Linked DNA regions of Homo sapiens: all the other regions are linked to region 3. Evidence: fine-mapped expression QTL. A gene starts in region 3. Each other region holds a variant in brackets. All regions are shown on one strand. Distances are from middle to middle.

Region 1 (2,757 bases), 43 kb before region 3:
AAGAGGCCTTAGAGGTTAGCCACTCTGATGTCTTCATTTTACAGGTGAAGAACAAAATGCGTAAGTAACTCGAACAAATTTGCACAGTGAATAAATGACAGAGAACAGAACAGCCATCACTGGCTGGTTGACTGGGGCTTTCCCATCTGGGACTTTTCTACTCACTGTGCCACGTGACCCACAGGACACTGTTCCCCAGCCAGGCACATGGACCTCAGATCATGAGCATCCAGATGTGTGGTTAAATACCAGCTGACACATTCCCCAAGACTGTTCATTCCAGATACACACAGACCATTTTTCTTTTAAAAAATTGAATCACATATGGCTATATCTCTGTGTGACTACCGTGCTTATAAGGAAGACATAAGGCTGTATCCTAATTAATGATTTTTAAAATTATTCTGGTAATGATAAACTCTTCCAAGCATTTCCTGGGATCTTAAAGATGGGAATTTTCTCAAACCAGCTGCTGTGAGAAATTATTTTCATACCATTTCCTCAGAAATCTACTTTGGATTCCAAATCTTTATATCTGCTTAATACTTTAAAGAATGTATTTCTATTCCCTTATTAACTTTCCTTTATTTGACTTGCAGTGAAATTCAGTGAAGAAACAAAAGATGATGTGTCTAGAGTTTACCTGGGAAGCTTACCTCTTCTTTGGAGTGTTTTAATGGGACTATGTAGTATACATTTACATGGTGCATTTGTTCCACTAACAACTTTAAATTTTATTAATTTTAACTAGGCATGGTGGCCTCAGTAGTCCCAGCTACTCAGGAGGGAGACAGGAGGATTCTATGAGCTCAAGAGTCCGTGGCTGCAGTGAGCTATGATCACACCACTGCACTGCAGCCTGGGCAACGGAGCAAGACCCCTTCTCAAAAATAAAAAATAAAAAACTTATCAATTTTGAAATCAATGCACATCAGGATACAGAATCTCAATGAGAAATATTTGTTGGGTTTCTTTTTTTGAAATGGAGCCTCAATCTGTCGCCCAGACTGGAGTGTGCAGTGGTGTGATCTTGGCTCACTGCCACCTCCCTCCACCTCCTGGGTTCAAGTGATTCTCCTGCCTCAGCCTCCCGAGTAGCTGGGATTACAGGAGCCCCCGACCACACCTGGCTAATTTTGTATTTTTAGTAGAGATGAGGCTTCACCATGTTGGCCAGGCTGATCTCGAACTCCTGACCTCAAGTGATCCACCTACCTTGGCCTCCCAAAGTGCTGAGATTACAGGCGTGAACCACCAGGCCCAGCCTGAGAAATATTTGTTGACCAAATATTTCTCAATTCCACTTGGCACACACAAATAAAGTTCCCTTTTCAACCATCTGGCGCCTGCCATTCTCTCTGTTTTAATACAGGTGGTTTTGTAGCAGGACTGTACTAGTTGAATGTGATAACCGATCTTTTGGCT[A/G]TTCCATCTGATTATTTCTGCCCAGCATTCTTAGCAAGTAACTTAATATTGGCAAAGTATTGGAAGAAAATTTCAAAATATAAGAAAAGGAGCCTTGAGAATAACAGGATCTATGGGGGGCGGGGATGTCAAATCCACGGATGTTACTTCCGAAGCCAGCAAGGCCTGCATCTCCCTGAGCAAACAGTGGGCATGCCCAGAACTGCCATCAGCCCCAACTCAAGTGCATGGTTCTCCCCTCGTTAGTGGCAGCCTTGGTGGGCCACTTTCCTCCTCTGGGCTTCTGGTCACTCACTTGCAAAATGGGGCTCTGTGACCAATGACCTGTAGGGTTTGTCCCAGTGCCAGAAGCCCATGTTTCTATGGCACAAGTGAAATAAAATTTTTCCATGGAATGTAGTTCAAAAAAAAGCCATTTGAAATGTCCCTTCTGGCTTTAGCAACAGTTTGTGTTTTTTGTTTGTTTGTTGTTGTTGTTGTTTGTTTGTTTGTTTTTTAACTGAAATCTGCACAGCTCTTTACCAATGTGCTGAATGCATTTCAGATTGTACAAAAGTTGAAAATGCTACATATCTCAGTGAGAAGCACATTAAAAATCTTTTAAAAGTGTTCATGTCAACTTCCATCTTTCATTTTCAGGGTCATATTTCATTGTGAATTGTGATGTTGACATTGAATTAGAAATACTGTTAAGTGCAAATATGCATGTACAGTTACATAATACAGGTGAATAATCTTGTTTAATTAAGTTTCATAAAATCTTGAACATGATCCATGGGCATTTGCATCAGCACTTTGAAAATTGATGGCATGACTTATTGTTGTGGCAGAAGCACTGGTGAGCAGGGATCTCTGTAATGAGCCTGATTCCTCCTTGACAGCTCCAATTTCATAGCATGGTCCATCTCAGGAGCCCTCAGAGTTGACCATGGGACAACTGGCTGCAGAAAGACACAGCTTGATCGCGTATTTTTGCTTGCACAGGCCATACCCTGTTCCTGCGGGGGGTGAGGTGCCCTAGAGGTCAAATAGCTGTGCCCCCCCACCCCCCCCACTCCTCAGCAAGGATACTCTCACAGAGGCATACCAGCTTCCGGGCTCCTGCCACCACACAATTCCAGTGGCTCCAGGAATGCCCATTCCACGCCAAAGGCTTCTCTGGAAAAACACAGGTTAAACCAAAGCCAGCTGTCATTTGGGTGGTGACCCGATTCAACATCACAACAAACAGGGCAGATCCAGGCAGGAGCTGCTGATGAGAAGAACAAAGACCTCAGGGAGCTGCGAGCCTTGTGCCAGCCTCCACGCCCTCTACCCCTTACAACACTTTCT
Region 2 (2,757 bases), 69 kb after region 3:
TAGTTCAGGGAGTTTGTCTTTTACATGGGAATTGCATCTTTTGCTTTTAAGAAACAGCATGAAGGTCAAATGATTCTTTTTTGTACCTGCTGTTTTTCAAGTGTTGTTACTTATATAGTCAGTATGCCAGAATAGCTGAGGAGTTTTGGAAAATAGATTTTAGCTTGAGGAGGAGGCGTGGGAAGGTGGGCAAGGCTCCCAAGGGGAGACAGCCCAGCTGGCTTTGAGACAGTGTTTTGCAGGAAGGCAGTCCTTGAGTCCTGGGTGCAGCTTGAAGCTTTGAGTTACCCACTGAGATGCCCATCCTATCTGGACTATCTGATTTTAAGTCAGAGTCTTTTCGTATAGTTCTAAGAAAAACAAACCGTTTGAATGACCTCCATAATGTTTGAACGTGTCACCAGCTAGAGTCCCAGAAGAAGGGAACTATCTTAGCCTGCCTTTGAACTTTAAGAGCCCATACTTTAAACCAATGTATCGAGGCAAGTCAGCACTAAGGCCAAGCACATAAAAGCAAAATATCAGGCGTGCAAAATGAAACCAAAGAATAAGGTATGTGCTCACTGGGAAGGACGACAAAGCCTTCTTTAACAGGAGGGAAAGTCCCTCATAAATCAGGAGAAGAAAAGGCCCTTGTATCAGTCCATTTTTATGCTGCTGAAAAAGACATACCTTAGACTGGGCGATTTACAAACGAAAGAGGTTTAATTGGACTCACAGTTCCACATGGCTGGGGAGGCCTCACAATCATGGCAGAAGGGAAGGAGGAGCAAATCGCATCTACATACATGGCAGAAGGCAAAAAAAAAGAAAGAAAGAGAGTTTGTGCAGGGGAACTCCTCTTTTTAAAACCATCAGATCTCATGAGACTTATTCACTATCAACAGAACAGCATGGGAAAGACTTGTTCCCATGATTCAATTGCCTCTCACCAGGTCCCTCCCACAACACGTGGGAATTCAAGATGAGATTTGGGTGGGGACACAGCCAAACCATATCACCCCTCTTAATAGGAGACCTCAGCAGCAGGAGGGGAAAAGACCCCTCACAAACAAAACCCAAATAAAACCAAAGAACTCAACTGAAACAAAAATGAGAGCTCAACTCAAGAAAGAGTCATGGTACCGGGGGAGGAAGCAACCCCTGGAAGCCAGGGGCAGGGACACTCAAGGAGCCCCAGAGTGGGCACCCCATGCAATCCTTCCAGGGGCGTTGATCTCTCCAAGGTGAGTCAGCTTCAAACCCCACTTCTGACAACAGGTTATGTCAACATAAAAAAAAAGAGAGCTGAATCTCTAAATAAGAAGGTTTAATTTGGAATAATATACAAGAAGTAGGATTACAATCTGGGACATCCATACAGACCAGGGTGACCTCTGGTGGGTACAGAGAACAAAGGAAAAGTTAGAGTTGATAGGGGAAAGAGGAGTTGCCCCATGT[C/T]GTTTTGAAAGAAAGTTCACTGGGGCTGGCAGTGACTTGCAAGAGCTGGTGCGTGCCAACGGGCAAATGTGAGCGGTTGCTGGGTGTGACTTGCAATCTTGGAGCTAGGGTTAGGTCCTTGTCATTTTGTATGGGGCTTGTGTGACAATGTGCCAGGCGAGTGTTCTTGTGTGAGCAGGGGGCTGTCCTGGTGCTGCTGGCTGCCCTGGTGCTGCTGGCTGCCCTCGTGTGACTCCTTAGTGAGCTCCAGTTTGGGAAAATTTCTTGTGAGAGCTCTCATTATCAGGCAAATGGTACGTGAGAACCCCCGCTGCTTCCCTGGCACTATTTGTCAGAGGTTGACACAAGTGACTCCATTTTGAATCTGACAACTTTCACAGTGTGCACTCCTTGTGTATTAAACTGGAATTTATGGCTCTCTATGTGTGGTGAAGATCTGTGCACAGGTGCACCCAACTGCCTAGGCACCACCTGGCATGGAGGAACCTCCCATCTCTCACTGCCTCCCCCCGTTTCACCTGTTCTCTGCCCACCAGAGTGGACTTCATTCTGTTCCTGGCCTGGGGCAAGGCTAGATCAGCCCCACACAGGCCACCATGACCCTTCCAGGTTGGGTTGATCCTGCCCATTCTATGCTTCTCCACACCTGCCCCTCCTCCTGGCACCCCGACTGGGTCATAGCCCTCACCACCCTGTTGTAAAGTCCAGTTTCCTGGTTGTAGGGTGCTCAATAAGCATCTGTTACAAGAACAAGTGGAGGAGAGTGAACAAATCCCCGGGGATTCTGATGAGGCCTCAGAGAGGGCTGGACCTGTGGAAGCCCAGAAAAAAAAAAGTCCTGAATGATTGAATCATGTCTCTGCAGGGTCACATTTCCTATCTCAGGCAGGTTGCCAAATTTAACAATTAAAAATACAGACTGCCCAGTCAAAGCTGAATTTCAGATAAACAGCGAGTGATTTTTTAGTGTAAGTATGTCCCAAATGTGGTATGGGACATTCTTACACTAAAATGTTGATTGTTTTTATCTGAAATTCAAACTTAACTGCACATCCTATGTCTATTTCAACTGTACACTAAAGCATCCTGTACCCCAGGGCATCCTGTACCCCAGGGCATCCTGTACGCTAGAGCATTCTATACCCCAGAACATCCTCTACCCGGAGCATCGTGTACCCCAGAGTATCCTGTACCCCGGGGCATCCTGTACCCTGGAGCATCCTGTACCCAAGGCATCCTGTATCCCAGAACATCCTGTACCCCGGAGCATCCTCTACCCAGAGCATCCTGTATCCCAGAACATCCTGTACCCCAGAG
Region 3 (2,757 bases):
ATACCACACACATCACACACACATCACACACACCGCACACACGCACACACTACACACATTCCCACACACTCATACACCACACACACCCTCACACACACACCACAAACACACCACACACACACCACATCAGTCACACACCACACACACACAAACACCACACACACGCACACACTACACACACACCACACACTCATACACCACGCTCACACACCCCCACACACACCACACATATCATGCATTCACACACCACACACAAGCACACACATGCACACACACTACACACACACCACACACTCATACACCACACACACGACACATACCACACACACCACACATTCACACACTACACACTCATACACTATGCTCACATACACCATGCAAACACCACACACACCACACACCACACTCAGACACCACACATTCACACAAAGCACACACACCACGCTCACACACAACACACCACACACACCACACACTACACACAATTACACACACTACTCACACACACCACACACACACCACACACACACACCACACACATCACCCTCACACCACACACAAAACACCCTCACACACTCACACATCACTCTCACACACACCATACACACATTACATACACAGCACACACACACCACACCCTCACACCACATCCCAGTCACACACCACACACTCACACACTAACACCACATACACGCACACACATATCACACACTCATACACCACGCTCACACACCCCACACACACACCACACATATCACACATTCACACATCACACAAGCACACACATGCACACACACCACACACTCATACACCATACTCACACCCCACACACACCACACACACATCACACATTCACACACGACACACTCATACACTATGCTCACACACACCATGCAAACACCACACACTACACACACTACACTCACACACACACCACACCACACTCACACCATACATACATACACACCACACACCACACTCACACATCACATGCACACACACCACGCTCGCACACACACACCACACAGTGGCAGCAGCAGCAGCACCCCGGGGGCGCGGGCGACGCCAGCCCGGGACCCGGCAAGGGAAAGGGCAAGCGCGCGGCGGAGCTGGCCCCGCGCGACAAGGCGCCGGCGGCTGCGGCGGCGGCGGCGGCGGCTGCGGCGGGGGCCGGGGGCCCCCGCGAGAGGGCAGCGGGCGCCAGGGCGGGGCCGGGCCCGGCGGTGGCGGCGGCGGCGGGCGGCAGCCTGGTCCCCGCGGCGCGCCAGCAACACTGCACGCAGGTGCGCAGCCGGCGGCTCATGAAGGAGCTGCAGGACATCGCGCGCCTTAGCGACCGCTTCATCTCCGTGGAGCTGGTGGACGAGAGCCTGTTCGACTGGAACGTGAAGCTGCACCAGGTGGACAAGGACTCGGTGCTGTGGCAGGACATGAAGGAGACCAACACCGAGTTCATCCTGCTCAACCTCACCTTCCCCGACAACTTCCCCTTCTCGCCGCCCTTCATGCGGGTGCTCAGCCCGCGCCTGGAGAACGGCTACGTGCTGGACGGCGGCGCCATCTGCATGGAGCTGCTCACGCCGCGCGGCTGGTCCAGCGCCTACACCGTGGAGGCCGTCATGCGCCAGTTCGCAGCCAGCCTGGTCAAGGGCCAGGTAAGGCGAGCGCGCCGGGGCTGGGGGCGCGGGGCCGAGATCGGGTCTGCAGCGCCGCCGGGCGCCCGGGCCCCGTGGTGAGGGCCAGCGCCGGCCCCTCCGGCCATCTCGCTCCCTGCTCTGACTACACCAGCGCCCCACGGGGATGCTCCGAGCGCCTCCACCTCTTTTCCCTGAGCGTTTTCTTCCTGCCCCTGCTTTCCGTCCCGTCTCTCCCGTCCCCGTCTGGTCTCAGTCTCTGCCCGTCTCTCTGGTATCGGTCTCTGCCGTCTCTCTGGTCTCTCTAGCTTGCTCATTCTCTCCTCATCCCTTCATAGTTCTCTTCCATCCCTCTTCCTTAGCCTCCCTCTCCCATACCCTCCTCTCCCTTTCCTCCTGGACTCTTTCTCCTCTCACCCCTTTCTCTGTCCCCCCATCTATTCCCACCCCCGTTCCTTTTTCATTTTTTCCTTCTCCACCCTCCCTGGCTCCCCTACTCTTCTTTCCCCTCCGTCTCACCTTTTCTCGCCCCTCTCTTGTCTGCTCCTCAATCTCCTGTCCCTATAATCTCTATGAAGGTGAGAACTTTTTCTGGACCTCAGGATTTAAGTGTCCAACCTAGCTGATCTCCCACCTCCCCAACCCCCCCCACACACACACACACAAGGCTCCTCCGCAGGGGACTCGGGTGGGAGATCTGCAGGTGGGTGCCGTGGGGAGGGACAGCTGCCTGCTTGTAAATCCGCCCCCTGCCTTCTTCTGGGCTGCCTCTCCTGGAAAGGTGGAAATTTTGCTCTTGGGAACTCACTCTAGAGAGGCGGCGGTGTGGTTTGGGCATTCCCTTAAGAGACAAGACCAGACCCCCCCCCCCCACGGCAATGCCTGTTTTCCCCTCAGAGCACCCCCTTCCTTCCCCGAACCCCTTAGGACCACCACCTCTGGGGTAGACGTTCCAGGTCTTGGTCTCTTTCAGACCTGCTTCTTTTTCTTCATCCCCTTACCTCACTGCCCCAAGCAGTTAAATCCTTTATCAGGGCTAAAGATTTTAACGAAATACGAAACGAAGGGCCAAACAGTTCTCCTGAGCCTTCTCACCTATTGCATCAGATGGCAGCTTTACGCA

Alleles and levels. Alleles are on the strand shown, and positions count from the first base shown. SD is a standard deviation of normalised expression in the study named. Not every link is listed here.
With allele G in place of A in region 1, the expression in sun-exposed skin of the gene that starts at base 1,267 in region 3 is higher (moderate effect, 0.70 SD a copy in GTEx).

What was found. PIP is the estimated chance that this variant, and not a neighbour inherited with it, causes the effect.
Region 1: its variant is fine-mapped to the expression of UBE2QL1 in sun-exposed skin (GTEx, PIP above 0.99).
Region 2: its variant is fine-mapped to the expression of UBE2QL1 in sun-exposed skin (GTEx, PIP above 0.99).

Annotation. Positions count from the first base shown.
Region 1 is chr5:6,404,140-6,406,896 of GRCh38, forward strand. No RefSeq gene overlaps it. Among named protein-coding and RNA genes, the nearest start is that of MED10, 27 kb to the left of the region's middle. The variant A/G (reference allele first, on the strand shown) is at 1,426.
Region 2 is chr5:6,517,065-6,519,821 of GRCh38, forward strand. No RefSeq gene overlaps it. Among named protein-coding and RNA genes, the nearest start is that of LINC01018, 64 kb to the right of the region's middle. The variant C/T (reference allele first, on the strand shown) is at 1,441.
Region 3 is chr5:6,447,593-6,450,349 of GRCh38, forward strand. It overlaps UBE2QL1 (ubiquitin conjugating enzyme E2 QL1), which reads left to right and starts at 1,267. Exons shown (of 2, transcript NM_001145161.3): 1 at 1,267-1,655. The coding sequence starts at 1,302. LOC105374639 (a long non-coding RNA gene) reads left to right here and starts at 1,745. Exons shown (of 2, transcript XR_007058679.1): 1 at 1,745-2,757. RefSeq lists a silencer at 1,230-1,299.